Regions from separate parts of the Homo sapiens genome. Here region 2 is linked to region 1. Evidence: fine-mapped expression QTL. Tissue or cell type: fibroblasts. Region 1 holds a variant in brackets; the other region holds the start of a gene. All regions are shown on one strand. Distances are between the middles of the regions. Region 1 has its middle 72 kb from the start of PARP8. Region 2 holds the start of PARP8 (poly(ADP-ribose) polymerase family member 8).

What was found.
Region 2: PARP8 starts here. The variant in region 1 is fine-mapped to the expression of PARP8 in fibroblasts (GTEx, PIP above 0.99).

The regions. Positions count from the first base shown.
Region 1 is chr5:50,590,786-50,599,123 of GRCh38, reverse strand. No RefSeq gene overlaps it. Among named protein-coding and RNA genes, the nearest start is that of PARP8, 72 kb to the left of the region's middle. The variant C/T (reference allele first, on the strand shown) is at 3,707.
Region 2 is chr5:50,662,474-50,670,811 of GRCh38, reverse strand. It overlaps PARP8 (poly(ADP-ribose) polymerase family member 8), which reads right to left and starts at 4,175. Exons shown (of 26, transcript NM_024615.4): 1 at 3,626-4,175; 2 at 2,687-2,741. The coding sequence starts at 3,716. RefSeq lists silencers at 3,051-3,380, 4,073-4,132, 4,183-4,332 and enhancers at 2,353-3,552, 2,988-3,900.

The DNA of each region.
Region 1 (8,338 bases):
AGATAAGAACTGAAGGAAATAGAGACACAAAAAACCTTTCAAAAAATCAATGAATACAGGAGCTGTTATTTTGAAAAGATCAACAAAATTGATAGACCGCTAGCAAGACTAATAAAGAAGAAAAGAGAGAAGAATCAAATAGATGCAATAAAAAATGACAAAGGGGATGTCAACACCAATCCCACAGAAGTACAAACTACCATCAGAGAATGCTATAAACACCTCTATGCAAATAAACTAGAAACTCTGGAAGAAATGGATAAATTCCTCGACACATACACCCTCCCAAGACTAAACCAGGAAGAAGTTGAATCTCTGAATAGATCAATAACAGGCTCTGAAATTGAGGCAATAATTAATAGCTTACCAACCAAAAAAAGTCCAGGACCAGATGGATTCACAGCCAAATTCTACCAGAGGTACAAGGAGGAGCTGGTACCATTCCTTCTGAAACTATTCCAATCAATAGAAAAAGAGGGAATCCTCCCTAACTCATTTTATGAGGCCAGCATCGTCCTGATACCAAAGCTGGGCAGAGACACAACAAAAAAAGACAATTTTAGACCAATATCCTTGATGAACATTGATGCAAAAATCCTCAATAAAAACTGGCAAACTGAATCCAGCAACACATCAAAAAGCTTATCCACCATGATCAAGTGGGCTTCATCCCTGGGATGCAAGGCTGGTTCAAAATATGAAAATCAATAAACGTAATCCAGCATATAAACAGAACTAAAGACAAAAACCATATGACTATCTCATTAGATGCAGAAAAGGCCTTTGACAAAATTCAACAACGCTTCATGCTAAAAACTCTCAATAAATTAGGTATTGATGGGACATATATCAAAATAATAAGAGCTATCTATGACAAACCCACAGCCAATATCATACTGCATGGACAAAAACTGGAAGCATTCCCTTTGAAAACTGGCAAAAGACAGGGATGCCCTCTCTCACCACTCCTAGTCAATGTAGTGTTGGAATTTCTGGCCGGGGCAGTCAGGCAGGAGAAGGAAATAAAGGGTATTCAATTAGGAAAAGAGGAAGTCAAATTGTCCCTGTTTGCAGATGACATGATTGTATATCTAGAAAGCCCCATCGTCTCAGCCCAAAATCTCCTTAAGCTGATAAGCAATTTCAGCAAAGTCTCAGGATACAAAATCAATGTGCAAAAATCACAAGCATTCTTATACACCAATAACAGACAAACAGAGAGCCAAATCAGGAGTGAACTCCCATTCACAATTGCTTCAAACAGAATAAAATACCTAGGAATCCAACTTACAAGGGACATGAAGGACCTCCTCAAGGAGAACTACAAACCACTGCTGAACAAAATGTAAGAGGATACAAACAAATGGAAGAGCATTCCATGCTCATGGATAGGAAGAATCAATATCGTGAAAATGGCCATACTGCCCAAGGTAATTTATAGATTCAATGCCATCCCCATCAAACTACCAATGACTTTCTTGACAGAATTGGAAAAATCTACTTTAAAGTTCACATGGAACCAAAAAAGAGCCCACATTGCCAAGTCAATCCTAAGCCAAAAGAACAAAGCTGGAGGCATCACACTACCTGACTTCAAACTATACTAGAAGGCTACAGTAACCAAAACAGCATGGTACTGGTACCAAAACAGAGATATAGACCAATGGAACAGAACAGAGACCTCAGAAATAATGCCACATGTCTACAACTATCTGATCTTTGAGAAACCTAATAAAAACAAGCAATGGGGAAAGGATTCCCTATTTAATAAATGGTGCTGGGAAAACTGGCTAGCCATATGCAGAAAGCTAAAACTGGATCCCTTCCTTACACCTTATACAAAAATTCATTGAAGATGGATTAAAGACTTACATGCTAGACCTAAAACCATAAAAAACCTAGAAGAAAACCCAGGCAATACCATTCAGGAGATAGGCATGGGCAAGGACTTCATGTCTACAACACCAAAAGCAATGGCAACTAAAGCCAAAATTGACAAATGGGATCTAATTAAACTAAAGAGCTTCTGCACAGCAAAAGAAACCACCAGCAGAGTGAACAGGCAACCTACAGAATGGGAGAAAATTTTTGCAACCTACTCATCTGACAAAGGGCTAATATCCAGAATCTACAATGAACTCAAACAAATTTACAAGAAATAAACAAACAACCCCATCAAAATGTGGGCGAAGGATATGAACAGACACTTCTCAAAAGAAGACATTAGTGCAGCCAAAAAACACATGAAAAAATGCTCATCATCGCTGGCCATCAGAGAAATGAAAATCAAAACCACGATGAGATACCATCTCACACCAGTTAGGATGGTGATCATTAAAAAGTCAGGAAACAACAGGTGCTGGAGAGGATGTGGAGAAATAGGAACACTTTTACACTGTTGGTGGGACTGTAAACTAGTTCAACCATTGTGGAAGTTGGTGTGGTGATTCCTCAGGGATCTAGAACTAGAAATACCATTTGACCCAGCCATCTCATTACTCGGTATGTACCCAAAGGATTATAAATCATGCTGCTATAAAGAGACGTGCACCCGTACGTTTATTGTGGCACTATTCCCAATAGCAAAGACTTGGAACCAACCCAAATGTCCATCAATGATAGACTGGATTAAGAAAATGTGGCACATATAAACCATGGAATACTATACAGCCATAAAAAATGATGAGTTCACGTCCTTTGTAGGGACATGGATGAAGCTGGAAACCATCATTCTCAGGAAACTATTGCAAGGACAAAAAACCAAACACCGCATGTTCTCACTCATAGGTGGGAATTGAACAATGAGAACCCATGGGCACAGGAAAGGGAACATCACACACCGGGGGCTGTTGTGGGGTGGGGGGAGGGGGGAGGGATAGCGTTAGGAGATATACCTAATGCAAATGACAAGTTAATAGGTGCAGCACACCAACATGGCACATGTATTCACATGTAACAAGCCTGCACGTTGTGCACATGTACCCTAAAACTTAAAGTACAATAATTAAAAAAAAGAAGTAAACATCAGTTGGTGACAAATAATAATATCTGCTTTGTGGGGAAAATTAAAGGCCCTGGAGAGGTATCAGGATGCACTAATTGTTCTTAATGTGTTCTGTCTTTTATGGTAATCACTGATTAAAATTTCATTAAATGAGTATGTATTATGCCTCAACAGAGAATGCCACTATCCCCCATTGTGATGTTGTTTGCTATGACAAAAAATTAACCAAACTTTACAGTTTTATTATCAACAACATCTCCTCCCCCTATCCCCGCTGCTTTTTTTTTTTTTTTTAGATGGAATCTCTCTCTGTTGCCCAGGCTAGAGTGCAGTGGTGTGATCTCAGCTCACCGCAAACTCTGCCTGTCGGGTTCAAGCTGTTCTCCTACCTCAGCCTCCTGAGTAGCTATATTCAGGTGCCCACCCCCACGCATGGCTAATTTTTCTATTTTCAGTAGAGACAGGGTTTCACCATGTTGTCCAGGCTGGTCTCAAACTCCGGACCTCAAGTGATCCACCTGCCTCAGCCTCCTAAAGTGTTGGGATTACAGACATGAGCCACTGTGCCCAGCCCTTCTTTCCCTTTAAGCATACCTAAAAGCCTTTCTACAAAGCGCCAATCAGAATTTAAGTCATCTGGAAGAAATATCAAAAGAGCTCCAGTAAAAACCGTAGCAGACACTGTTGATACTGTTGATACCA[C/T]AGGAAATTGACTCATGGATATAGGCCTCCAAGAATAGGCTGACCTTGTCCCCACAAACAATATTCCAACTATACCAAGTAAATGAGTCAGGATTTCCAAGACACTCACAATGTAGAAGCAGATGAATTCATGAAAGCAGACTGCTTAACTCAAGACCAGCATGACAAGAGGTTGTTATTTAGGATTAAAGGACCTCAATAAAGCGATTTAATTGAGGTTAGTTTAATTTTCTACTTTAATGAACATGAGAGAAACCCATTTTCTTTCTTCTTAATCTATCTTTAACCTCCAATTAAATTTACAAATTATTGAATTTGTAAAAACTAAATAAAACACTCTGAATTCTTAGTGTTGAGGAAAAAAATACCTTGTAGAAATTCTTAATATAAAAACAAAGCTAATAAATTGCCAAGAAAAACATACAAATAATTATTTTGTAAAGAATTGTGACATACAATATTTGGTTTTGTCTATTAACATACTCTTAATTAGCAATATTGGTTAATTCTTACACAAAGTTTCTTTAATAAAAACATTTACTTTTTGTGACTATGTAGTTATTTGTATTGGTTCAATAAGAATTTGTCCTCCCTTCTACCTGAATATATAACTAATTAGAAAAATCTTTTTTTTTTTTTAGATGGAGTCTTGCTCTTTTGCCCAGGCTGGAGTGCAATGGCATGATCTCAGCTCACTGCAAACTTCCAGTCTTGGGCTCAAGCACTTTTCCCACATCAGCCTCCTGGGTAGCTGGGATTACAAGCACCCACCATCATGCTAGGCTAATTTTTGTATTTTTATAGAGACGGGGTTTCACCATGTTGGCCAGGCTGGTCTTAAACTCCTGACCTCAGGTGATCTGCCCGCCTTAGCCTTTCAAAGTGCTGGGATTACAGGCGTGAGCCACCTTGCCTGGCCAGGAAGAATTAATTTTTTAATAAAAAATTTATAGCTGTGCTACAAATTCAATTAAATTAGACAAGACAAATCCAGTAATAAGAATAATTTCTATGTTTTTCACGCAGAAGTGATGCCTATAACATCCTTCTAGGAAACCAGTCTGGTACATGCTGTATGGACTATGCAATCTCAGGCTTGGAGGTTAAAAAGAATGTCCTTTCTTGGCAGAGCAGGGACATCAAGACATCTGGATATCTTTTATTAAAAAGGATACATTTGCATTATAAATACTGCAGGTGAAATCAGGTAGAGGTGAGCTGACTGGTTTGGTCTGCTCTAAACTGAGCTGTTAAACATGTAAAAGTAAATTTAAACCACAAGGGCTTTATAAATCTATAGATAGACATAAACTTGTAAGCCTTAGTTTATTGTTTCGTCAAAAAAATACTAGGAGGTCATTAAATTAATATAATCAACACTTCTTCTTAGATCTGTGCAAATAAAATGGCTCAAAGTAAAATGTAAAATCAATAGTACTGATTAGGAACATTGTTCAGCAAATGTAGGTAGACAAACATGTCCTGTAGAGGAGGAAACATGACCACAAGATGAAGTGTAAAAACCAAAGTGACATCTGGGCCTGACACCATTGTCAGCCCGTACATCATGTCCCACTGCTGAAGAAACAGAGAAAAAAACCTCTGCACTCTGACATAAAGAAACAATAAAAGAGTCTCTCTGTTTACTTGCAGTCCTCCAAATGAATAAAACCTTGAGCATTTCCTGAGAGTTGCTAACTCCTTAATGAAAATTACTTTATCCTTGACTTTACAATGCTATTTATTGTCTGAAGATATGTCATGAACTTTTTGAATACAATAACCATGATAAAATTGCTGTTTTCTGCCATGAAGAGACTAATATAAAGCCTATAGTCTTCACAATACTGTTTGTTTTAAAAAATTCTATTTTTTAAATTTTTTGGGCCAGTTCTTTTGAAGACTGACTTCCTCACATTTCTTTGCAAGTAAATGCCTCCTGCTTATTTTTCCGACATGCTTTTGTTTCTGAGCCTTTCTTTCATGCTCTATACACACAAATCAGCAGGAGATGGTACCTGCAGCTATATTTGGAGTTTACTGCCTCAATGTTCACTTGCAATGAAAGAGAGTATTTCTGTTCTAGCTTCTTAACAAAAGACTAGAAATTCATGCTGAACCAACAAATTGTCCTCTATATTTTTCATCTGCAAGGAGGATTTAAATATTTCTAGCTCAGTATTTCAGCCCTGAAGATTATTTCACCCCCACTGCTAATCGTGACCTAATCTGTTTTTGTGTTGTTAATGCTCCTATATACTAGCCTGGTCAGTAATTCAATAACAGGCTTAATTTCTTAATATTTTAGGCCATGTGTTAATTTTGCTATTTCTTAGCCATTATTCCTCAATAGTTTTAAACTGCATCCCTGCTTACCCTCCCTTTTACTGGACAGGCTTCCTCTGTTTACTAATACAATTCCCCAAATTGATTCATCCACTTGTTGAAATACCTAATTTTAGGCCTTGCACTGACAGCTTGCCTAGGCTTATACTTGTTGTGTTTGGTGTTGTAGTCTTCAGATTCTAAAAACACCATCTAGACCTTACATTACCTCCAGCCAGGCCTATTCCCCCAGGGCCTGCCTTAAGGAGCAGATTTCTTTTCAAGTTTCATCTTCCTCCCATTTATTTCATTTCATGACAGTTAGAGAAGCTGTATACGAACATATGACAAATGGTAAGTTAGCAGAGAAAAATGTTATTTTAGGATAAGTTCAGGGAAAGCTTTTTGGAGGAAAGTCAGCTCACATTAGTCCTGATGATGGATAGTGGACTACAGATGATGGAATGATGAAGTGGAAACTCGGGTGGGTACATATGGACATTCCACATAGAAGCAGTGTGAGCAAAACCACCAAGACAGGAAATGAGATGGAATTGATAAGGCAATGCAAATAATTCAGGTTATTTAGATAATCAGTGTTGGGGGACGCTGGATTTATGGGAATCAATGGTTAATCAAAATGTGAGCAGCATTGGTTTGGTAATTCATGGAAGAGGTTATCATTCAACAGGGGGAGTGGCTTCTCAATTATAAACAAACATGTCTGAAGGTCACTGAACATCAAGGCTATCCTTCAGTTAAAATCTTATTAAAATTATACTGACCTCTGATGACCTTCAGAGAGCTCCAGCTAGATGGACTGATGATAAGAGAAATTCGAGAAGGCAATGGGACAAATCTTTCTGCAAATCTCTGTTATGTCATATATCTAAGGTTTCTGCTGGATCCAGTGATTTGTTTGTTCTGACTGTAGTACAAACCTATTGGAACAATAAATCTAGTTATAATAAATGACAGAGGGCATTCAAGCAGATGCAAGAAGCAAAATATACAGGTGTAAAGACAAACTATATTAGGCCTCCCATCAAGCTTCTCTAACATTTTCACACCACAGCCCTGCCTGACTTCTCTGTATCTGGGTAGGCCCCTTCTGTTTGTTAAACCAGTTCTCTGATGGTGACTACCTGATTCTCTAGTCCTCAAGTTCACTCATCCTTTTTATTGAGAATGACATTTTTAGACTACTAATAATGTTTATATATAAGAAAGAAACTGAGTTTTTATATAAATATATAATCTTTTCAAATAAAAGATTATAATCAAGGAACTGTAAATAATAGAAAAATTACATAACGTTTCCCTGTTTGGGGATTGGTTAAATGCAATATTATAGAAGCCTGAAAAAATCATGACTGTATTACAAAAGAATATAAAAATAATTGAAGGCTAGGAATTATGTCTACCAACTAATTCAGTCATTTGGCTGTTTATTCTCATTTGAACAGTAGTGGATTAAAAAAAAAAAAGACTTTCAACTTTCATCACATGGAGAAAAGGATCAAGTACACATTAGAGAAAGCTGATGGCAATGATTTCTAGTTTCAGTTTCTATTTTCTGTCAGTTAACCATCATTTTGGTAAACAACCTTTTTAAATGTCTTTTCTTTTAATTTTTAAATTTTTACTTTAAAGACAGGATCTCACTATGTTGTGAAGGCGTTGGCCTCAAACTCCTGGACTCAGGTGATCTTCCTGCCATAGCCTCCCTAGGTGCACACCACCATACCCAGCTATTAATGTCTTTATAAAAGCATTTTTAACCCTACTGGTCTAGCTATTGCATCAAATAAATAGCTAATTCCATTGGGGAAAGATTAGGGACTCATGAGTGAAAATAAATATTTTATTTGGATAATGGCTACAAAATTTTAACAGTCAAAATAAAGAAGAGATTAAAGCCATGATGATGACTTAAAAGATAAAGTTAGGTAGAAATGTGAACTAAGGGAAATGACTCAACACATTCAGCAACACAAAACTGTGGCCTAAATTCACTCTGACAGTTGTTATGCTATCTCCTGCTGCCCGAGTAAAGTAAGTTATGAACAAAACACATGAAGGGGACCAGGCAGACATATGGTCAAATGCTTTCTGTGCAATATGTCTGTCTCCATATTATCTTCTCTGTCTCATTGCACTTTGGACATTTTTATTCTTCCTGCGGATCTATTTTTGTGAAGCAATGTGATTTAAATGAAAAGAACACTGAATTCTCAGCCAGATATTTAAGTCCTAGTTGAAGATTTATCACCTAGTGGTTATAAGATTTGGGGCAAATTGCTTAAT
Region 2 (8,338 bases), 72 kb before region 1:
TCAAAAAGCTTGAAAACACTAATGGAGAAGAAGGAGGTCTCAGGAGTGTGATGGAACAGGTTTACATGGCAGCTTCAACATTTAATTGATGAAAGTGACTATGTGTCTTAAACTCTCTGAGCCTCAGTTTGCACATCCAAAAGCAAGGATATAATTCCATGAACCTTTCCACCTCAAGTCCACAAGGCAGAATAGCAAGATGTTAACTGCCACTCTGAGGACCACCAAATAAAAGGACAATTTATTAGGCCACTTGCCAGCATGGACACAATCGCCTCTTGGCATTTCTTATTATCCACAGAAAAATTAAAAGTATAAATGTAGAACAAAATTATTATTTTTTTTTAATAGTAACATGTAAGATCAATCTTTGTCTTTAAAATACCATGTATCTCATTCTTGGAAAGCATCAAAAAGAAAACGGTATAGTAAGTTTTATCTACAACTTGAATTAAAATTATTCTTGAAATATGTTCTTAATGGTTAGATGAAATGGTAGTTAAATACAAATAGAGATAATCATATACTCTCTCTCCATAAGGCTCCCACCTCCTTCAATAAAGTCTAGTTCACCTAAAATGATACTATTAATTCAATATTACAAGTTGATAAGCACATTAAATCAAAACACAGCAAGATTATTTTAAGAGTCTGACTGAAATGTCAGGATAAGAAATAGATTAATAAATATTGGTTTATAATGTCGGTAATGAAAACAAATACGTTATTTTCAGAAAATAAAAGGTATTCGCCATTAGGTACAAATCATAAAGGGATTATCTACGGTTACTACACTGTAACAACTTTTTACATATTGTATTTTAGAACAAGCTTTTGAGAAGACAAAGCAACACATCAGCAGTTTAACCAATTGTCTTTCTCTTTTAACAGGCTGGTCTACATTAGATTAGATATAAAAGGCTCAGGTACACTTGTGCTCGATCTTAGCCAAATGGCTGAGAAACAGCCAGGTACATTTAAATCAGTGACAAAAGAAAACACTATCCTTTAATAAAATTACATAAAATAGGAAACATCTCTTACTTTAAGAGCAACCATGGTACTTCTTCCTATGGTGAAAACTGATGTTATCTCGCTTAATTATTCATCCCAACACCTGGCCTTGCTCCCTTTTCCACCTCTAGCTATGTTAACACTAGAGTCCAATAATTTGCTGATAAAGAATCTTAACTGCAGTATCTAACAGATCTTAGTGATTAAGCATATGATTTACCCTTTGATTGTACAGATAAGTAAACTGAGGCCAAAAGAACTGAGGTATCTTATTAAAAATCAGAAAGCTAGTTACTTGAAAAGCCCACCTGTCCTTCCTGTCCACATGTCTCACCAGAAAAACAGCAATAGTGAAAAGTCAACTCTGTTTTTAATGGGCCACTTTGTATATTTTAACTGTTAAAATAATCCAAGAGGATATTAGTCATATACGAAGATCCTTTAGATATAATGTGTAGGACCAGCGTTAATTTAATCAACCAAGTCTCCTCTCATTGAATTATTAATTCATAATTACAAAGATGACATTACAGTAAATTAAGAAATACTGTAATTTCATTCTCTCCCAAAAAGTATACACTTAAGTTTGGTGATTCACTGTTATATTTTCAACTAGTAAATCAATGTGCTAATTCTGGGGCTTAGGTATATTGCATATACTGGAATGATATTCACTTTAAATGTTTTGAGATGTATAATGTAATACAGATCCTACGTGTTTTTAAAAGTTCACATCAATTTCAAGCTTTTAAAAATGTATGTACACAAGAAAGCTTCTTTTGCAATTTATATGTTTATAAATGTTTCCATTAGCTAAGATATATTTTGGAATGTGATCAAACAATATTGAATGTCAAGTCCTAACAGCAGGGCTGGTCTAAGGAATTCCCTCTAAGCTAAATCTGGTACTTCTCATATGTGGCTACTGCTCTTTTAAACTACTGTGTCCCTAAAGGGCTAAAAGGAAGAAAATCCTAACTCAACAAGTGAAGGTAGCAAGGCATAGTATTTGAATGGCTACCTTTCATTTTAACTCTACTTCCTAAATTCAAAATTGGATTTGGGTTTGTTTCAAGTTGTTCACAATTTACTAACGAAATGTGCATCTCTCATTCTTCCCCCAAAAGAAAGAAGTCATCCACTCCAGCTACATATAAGTCTCCAATTTCTATACGTGAAAACCGAAATACCACTCATTGAAAAAAAAATGTACAGAGAATTGGCAGGCTGCATGTTTATGTAAACCTTCAGAAAACATGGAAACACGCAGCCCCAACTCACCAGGAAAATCAACACTTCTGATCAAACTATTTTGTGACATTTTATGTCTTTTATACATTTCACTTCATATCCAGTATTCCAGTTTTGCACCGGCGTGCCTGTATCAACCCCAAATCGCCTGAGAGCAATCTAGTACTGTAGCAGAACAGTTTCAACATGAAGAGTTCTGCTCATTGCCTGTGGCGTGGTCCTCGAAACACCTGAATCAAACATTGATTCCCCTCCTCCTGCTATTTAAAACCGAGGGACGTCAGGCTTGGGTAGCAGGTAAAGAAAAGCCACAATAATCAAACAAACAAGCAACCAAAATACCCGAACACGGAACACGCTAAGAACAAAGGAAACACAAGAGTGTGAACAGGAAATGAAGCAACTCTATACACATAAATACCTTCTGGGGCCGCCAACGTAGGTAAAAGTAAAGGTGGAGTCAGAGTATCTGAAATCTGAAACAGAAAGTCCCGTCAAAAGCTACCCCTGGAGTGGATTTGTTTTAACCCCGATCAGGACTTGAGCCCCACATTCGGTGGTGTCAGGGGAGGCCTGGCCGGGCAGAAGGCAAGGGCTAGAGGGCGGCGAGGTCCCTCTGCGCCGCGTCCGAGGGGATGCGGCGCGCCCCCGACTGGGTGCAGCGGGAGGCCGCCCCCCGCAACAAGTGCCGGGTGCCATGGCAACAGCGGGAATTTCCCGATAGGGGAGGCCGGAAGCAGCCTCAGCCGGGCTCGCGGTAGCGAAAGCAAAATCCCGGGGGAGCAAAATGGACGAAAGGCGACCCCCAGGCAGGGGCGCTGGGTGCCTTGGGAATCCGAGGAATCCCTTCTCTTTGCCAGTCGGAGGGGACTAGAGGGAGCCGAAGGGGCCGGAGATGGGCCGAGCGCTGCCCCCCGGGGGTCCTCGGCGCCGGGCGCAGCTTACAAGCGCAGCGCAGCGCAGCAGGCTCCATTCCCGGCCGCCGCCGCTCAGCCCATTGCGCAAACCAACCCCGCTCTGCCGCCGCTGCTGGAACCCAGGAAGCGTGCTTGGAGGCTTCGGGCACTACGCGGGGCTGGAAATACCACGCACTGCCCCTTCGCCTAGACCCCCGCTCCGGCCACGCGGGCTCTGCCCTCAAAGCTGGTGGCTGCCTCAGACTTGGCGGTGGGGGAGGGGAAGGGGAGAGGCTGGCGCCCCCTCCCCCTTTTGGCTCCCGCGCTCGTTGCAGCAGCTGTTGCCAAATGAACCCCAGAATGGGGACGTGCAACCCTCCACCCCACCCCCAGCCACAGACGTCGCGGTCAGAAAACTGGGAAGGGGGCGCTGGGTCCGAGGTTCTGGAAAAGCAAGAACTCACCTGCAAACAGGCAGTCCTTCTCAGCTCTGGACTTCTGGATCACGACGTCGATATCCTTCTGAATTCGCTCTTGCCTTGAACACATCCCCATTAAATAAATCCCTGGAAAAGAAGCAGCCGCTATTTCCACCCCACCCCACCCCCCTCGCACGCTTCCAGCTTTCGTAAATATTCAGTTAAAAATGAAACCTCTGGCCGAGGCAGGGGCTGAAGGCGAAGTGGTTTCGGAAGTGATCCTGGGTGAGAGAAGAGGAGGAGGAGGAGGGGGAGGAGGAGGAGGAGGGGGAGGTCGGCTTTGCATTCCCAGATGTGACCGCCCAGCTGCTGCTCGCCGCTGCTGGATTCCAATTTCCTCCCCTTCTGACAATGGATGGTGATGACACCAAGTCTCACTTTCTCCCTCACCCGCCCGGACCAACGGCCGTGGGGGCCGAGGTGCCGGGGACAGCCAGAGAGCAATCACCGGCTGGGCGGCGGGCGCCGGCGAGGGGCGAGCCCCGCTCCGGCTCACGCGCGCACACCCCTCACGGCTCGCACGCCGGCCTTCCACACCCGCGCACACTCGCGCCCGCGGGCGGCGGCAGCCGTGCCCAGGCTGCTGCAGCGCCGCCCGCCCGCCGCAGACCCTCCGCGCCCGCCGCCTAGTCACCCCGCCGGCCGCGGGCTGCCGGGGCTCGCAGAGTATTAGCCATCCCGGGCGGGAGCCGCTTCTCCCCACACCGACCTCCACTCGCGCCGGGAGCTGAGCGGTCGTGAAGACTCCCTGGGGCTCCCAGCCTTCCCTCTCCGCGCCCCTCCCCCCATCACTTTTATGAATTCGACTCCACTTTCTAAAGGAATTATAGTCTTGTGGCAAACCCAAACCGGAGTGGCTGGGAGGGGGAAAAGGGGGGAAAAGAAAATCTTTAAAAATTAAAAAAATAATAAAACGAACAAATCTTTCCTTATTGCCACATCACATAACACGGAAAAGGCCTTAAAATTACTCCAGACGTGCACCCTCCCCTTCCCTCAGTGCCTGAGTCTTTTTCCTCCAGATCGAAGTAGTTCAGCCCTTTTGGGGCGCCGTTTACGAAACACAGCCCCTTTTGAGGGACTTCCTCCTCTTGAAACTCACCAGTTCTCCCTTCCTAGGTGTTTCTGTTCATGAGAAATGGTCAGAATCAACTGGCACGTTCCAGGGTCTTCCTAAAAGATGGAAACCTGTTTGGCTTGATTTTTAAAACCACCTCCTTTGACAGTCAAGGGAAAGCTACAATCCAGGTGTTCAGAAATGAGATACTGCTCTGATTCTCACTTTCTGTTCTGCCTAAGGACACCCCAGGCTGACGTAGCTGCCCCACCTCTATATTGGTTTATGCCCTAGGAGAGGTCTCCAGCAGGCACTTTTCTTGTTGATCTTTTCTCCACTGAGAAGGCTCCCGCCAGTAGACCATGACTCCTTTTGCTTTGCATACTCAGTGCCATGTACAGTGCCTGGAATACAGGAGGGTGGCCTAAATGTTGGCTGAATGCACGAATGGTCATTTCTTGCAGCCTCTTTTCATTACCCTGTCTCATCACTTTTCTTATCAGCATAAGTGCCCAAGAGTTGCCAAACTGTTTCAGACCCTTAATCAATTTAGTTCTGATTCTGACCGTGACAACATGATGTTCAGCACGGTAGGAATGACTGCCATCCCTGAAGGAGTCTTAAGATTCTGTAGAATCAATGAAAGATCCTATGTTCTAACTCCTTTATCTTTCAGGAAACAAATTACAAAATAATTTCCTTGTCCAGTCATATTCACTATGAGTTACAAAAGGAAACATTCTGCATTATTGAGATCCACTGCAGCCTTTGATGTAGTAAAGCCACAGTCACAACAGTCTATATCTCCTGCTCAGTCCTCTCCTGAAATGCTTCCTGTTTAGGGTAGGACAGGTTCAAGCCCTTTGTCCTTCCTGGATATGTTGCTTTGTGTAGGCCCTTTGGCTGCCAAAAATGCTCTCTTCTCTTCCACATCACCACTGAGAATCATGAGTATTTCTTCTTCCATTATGTGCTTTAATTTCTCTGAAAGGCTGAAAGTCTATTAACTCACAAGAATTTATTTTATAGTTATCTAGCCACAAGGCTTGCATCTTCCAAGTAGAACCCTTACTACAAATAAATGTGAAATAGTTTTAAAGCTACCAAATATTTTTTTGTCTGGATGAGCTCTTAGTTTACTACTCACTCCTTAAAATAGGCCTTCTTGTGACTTGTCCTATATTTGATTTTTTTTTAAGCTTCATGGGCTGCCCTGTTTTGGTTAAACAAAGCTAACCTCACCCTGTTCATGCCCTTAAGGTGTGATGTATTTAATAAATATTTGTACATTTGAAGGAGTAAGATTAAAAAATAAAAACCTATCTAGTATGTATTTCTGCAAGATAAATTTCTCTAATTAAAAACTATACCAACGTAGATCCTTCCAAGGATCTTCCAGGCTAGATCCTTATGGAGCACTTTGCTCAAAGTAAGTCAGCCCATATCCAGGATCCTTTCTTTACCTTGCCCCATCTCCGAATATTTAAATGTTTATATTATGTGTGCTCAACATACTTCCCTTATCAAAAACTATATGCGCCTTTGAGATGAAACAGTTCTATCTCTCCTTAAACACTCATGAGTATACAACATACACACACATGCATTCAGGAACGTGGCACATAAGAGGCCCTTCACCAATTTGTTAAATAAATAAAATCAATATTTACAGTGAGGGAGAACTCAGGTGGTATCCCAAACTAAATTGAAGATAATAATCTACATGTTGGATGATAGACTCTACTGAAAAAATTCCACCGGTTTAGAATAATGATTCAAAGCCACCAGATATAATTTATTAGTGAAAAATATAAATTTTTTGCCTGTGCCAAAAGGCCCAACTGCGGAAGTATAAGGTAATGGACATGCGGCATTAAGTTCAATAATGTGATGTGGGTATTAATAACTAACATTTATCCAGAACTTAATATTTATCCAGAACTTATCCAGAATTCATTAACATTTATCCAGAACTGGTAGAAACTGTTCTAAAAGCTTTACATATAGTTACTCATTTAATATTCACAATAACCCGTATATACTAGCTGTTATTTTTCTCATTTTACAAAAGAGGAAACAGGCTCAAAGGGGTTAATTCATCTAAGGTGAGACATGGACTACAAGAAGTTTTTTTCTCTCTTGAAACCTTTCAGCAATTGAATTGAACTTAAAGGAATAAATATGTACAGAAGCCACACGAGGAAGTAAACCGCCCCGCCAATGGCTGCAGGCCAGGAGTGAAGCCGACAAGAAGCCCTATGATGGATTTTGAGGAGGGCTGAAGCCTGTGGACTCTCAAAATAGCCTCTGCTAGTGGCAGTTATATTTCCCTTTCTTGCATTCAACTTCCTTTCCCAAATGACCCAGCCATTAGTACAGTCTTAAGAAAAGTACAAGCCTGACCTCTGCTATTCCATGGTTATTAAGAAGAGGATAGGAGGCAGGATTAGCAAAGAGGGGAACAGCCTTCTTTGCCATATGCATGATAGTGTCATCAGTGGTAAATGCCCATGGGAATGCCTACCATCCTTGCTGGGATGTGGAAACAGCACTGGGACAGTTTGCTTTTGTGGCAGAATCAGTGAAGGAGGGACAAGGTAGGGGCCGAGGCATTGCTGTGAGAAGACACCACAAAGGGCCTTTAAACAAAGGTGAGGAAGTGGGATTTCATCTGAGAAAAATGGAGAGCCACTGGAAGGAAGATGATCTGAAAAGTTCTTTCTAATTATGAGATTGATATAGCTTCTGCTTGCGGTGGTTCTGTAATGGAAAGAAATCCGTAAAATTCAAAATGCCTGCTAAGGGCCCAACTACCTTCTTCTAAGTAGAGGGACGTGTGCAATTCTTTCCTTATAAAGCTGCTTGGCTGGTGTGGTGGCTCATGCCTGTAATCCCAGCACTTTGGGAGGTTGAGGTGGGAGGGTTGCTTGAGGTCAGGAGTTCAAAACCAGCCTTGGCAATATTGCAAGACCCCTGTCTCTACAAAAAATAAAATAAAAATTAGCTGGGCATGTGGGTGAATACCTGTAGTGCTAGCTACTTGGGAGGATCTCTTGAGCACAGGAGTTTGAGGCTGCAGTGTACTGTAACTATACCACTGCACTCTAGTTGAGATGACAGAGGGAGACCCTGTTTCTTAAAAAAGAAAAGAAAAAGCTGCCTTTGGAAACTAATCCTACTTTTCTGACCTCTTCTGATAGGTCTACTGTAAAAAACCAAAGTCAACTTTGAATAAACTTGACAAGCTGAAGGAGAACTTTAGGTGATGTTTTGTGGATTTGTCACATTTTGGTTCTTACCATACCCCCCGTTAGGTTACTAAGGTCAAATGTGACGGCACAGGGGTGGTGTTGAGGTTTTATGGCCCTTTCTAGCATCTTAACTAACCTAGGTAATACTAAAGCTACAGGATGAAACCTTAACTCTTCTTTCTAGTTCCAAATTTCACTTTAATTTAGATCCATTTTTCCTGTAAAATTTTAATTCCCCTTTCTACCTAGAAGCATTCTAGACCATAATTAGATGAGATGCCTCACTGTGCCATGCAAACAAACTCATTCTTAGCTTGTATTCATTCATATTAATTCCTTCTTTTGAATACCTCTTTTTCTTTTTCTTAGAAAGTACATAAATACTATATG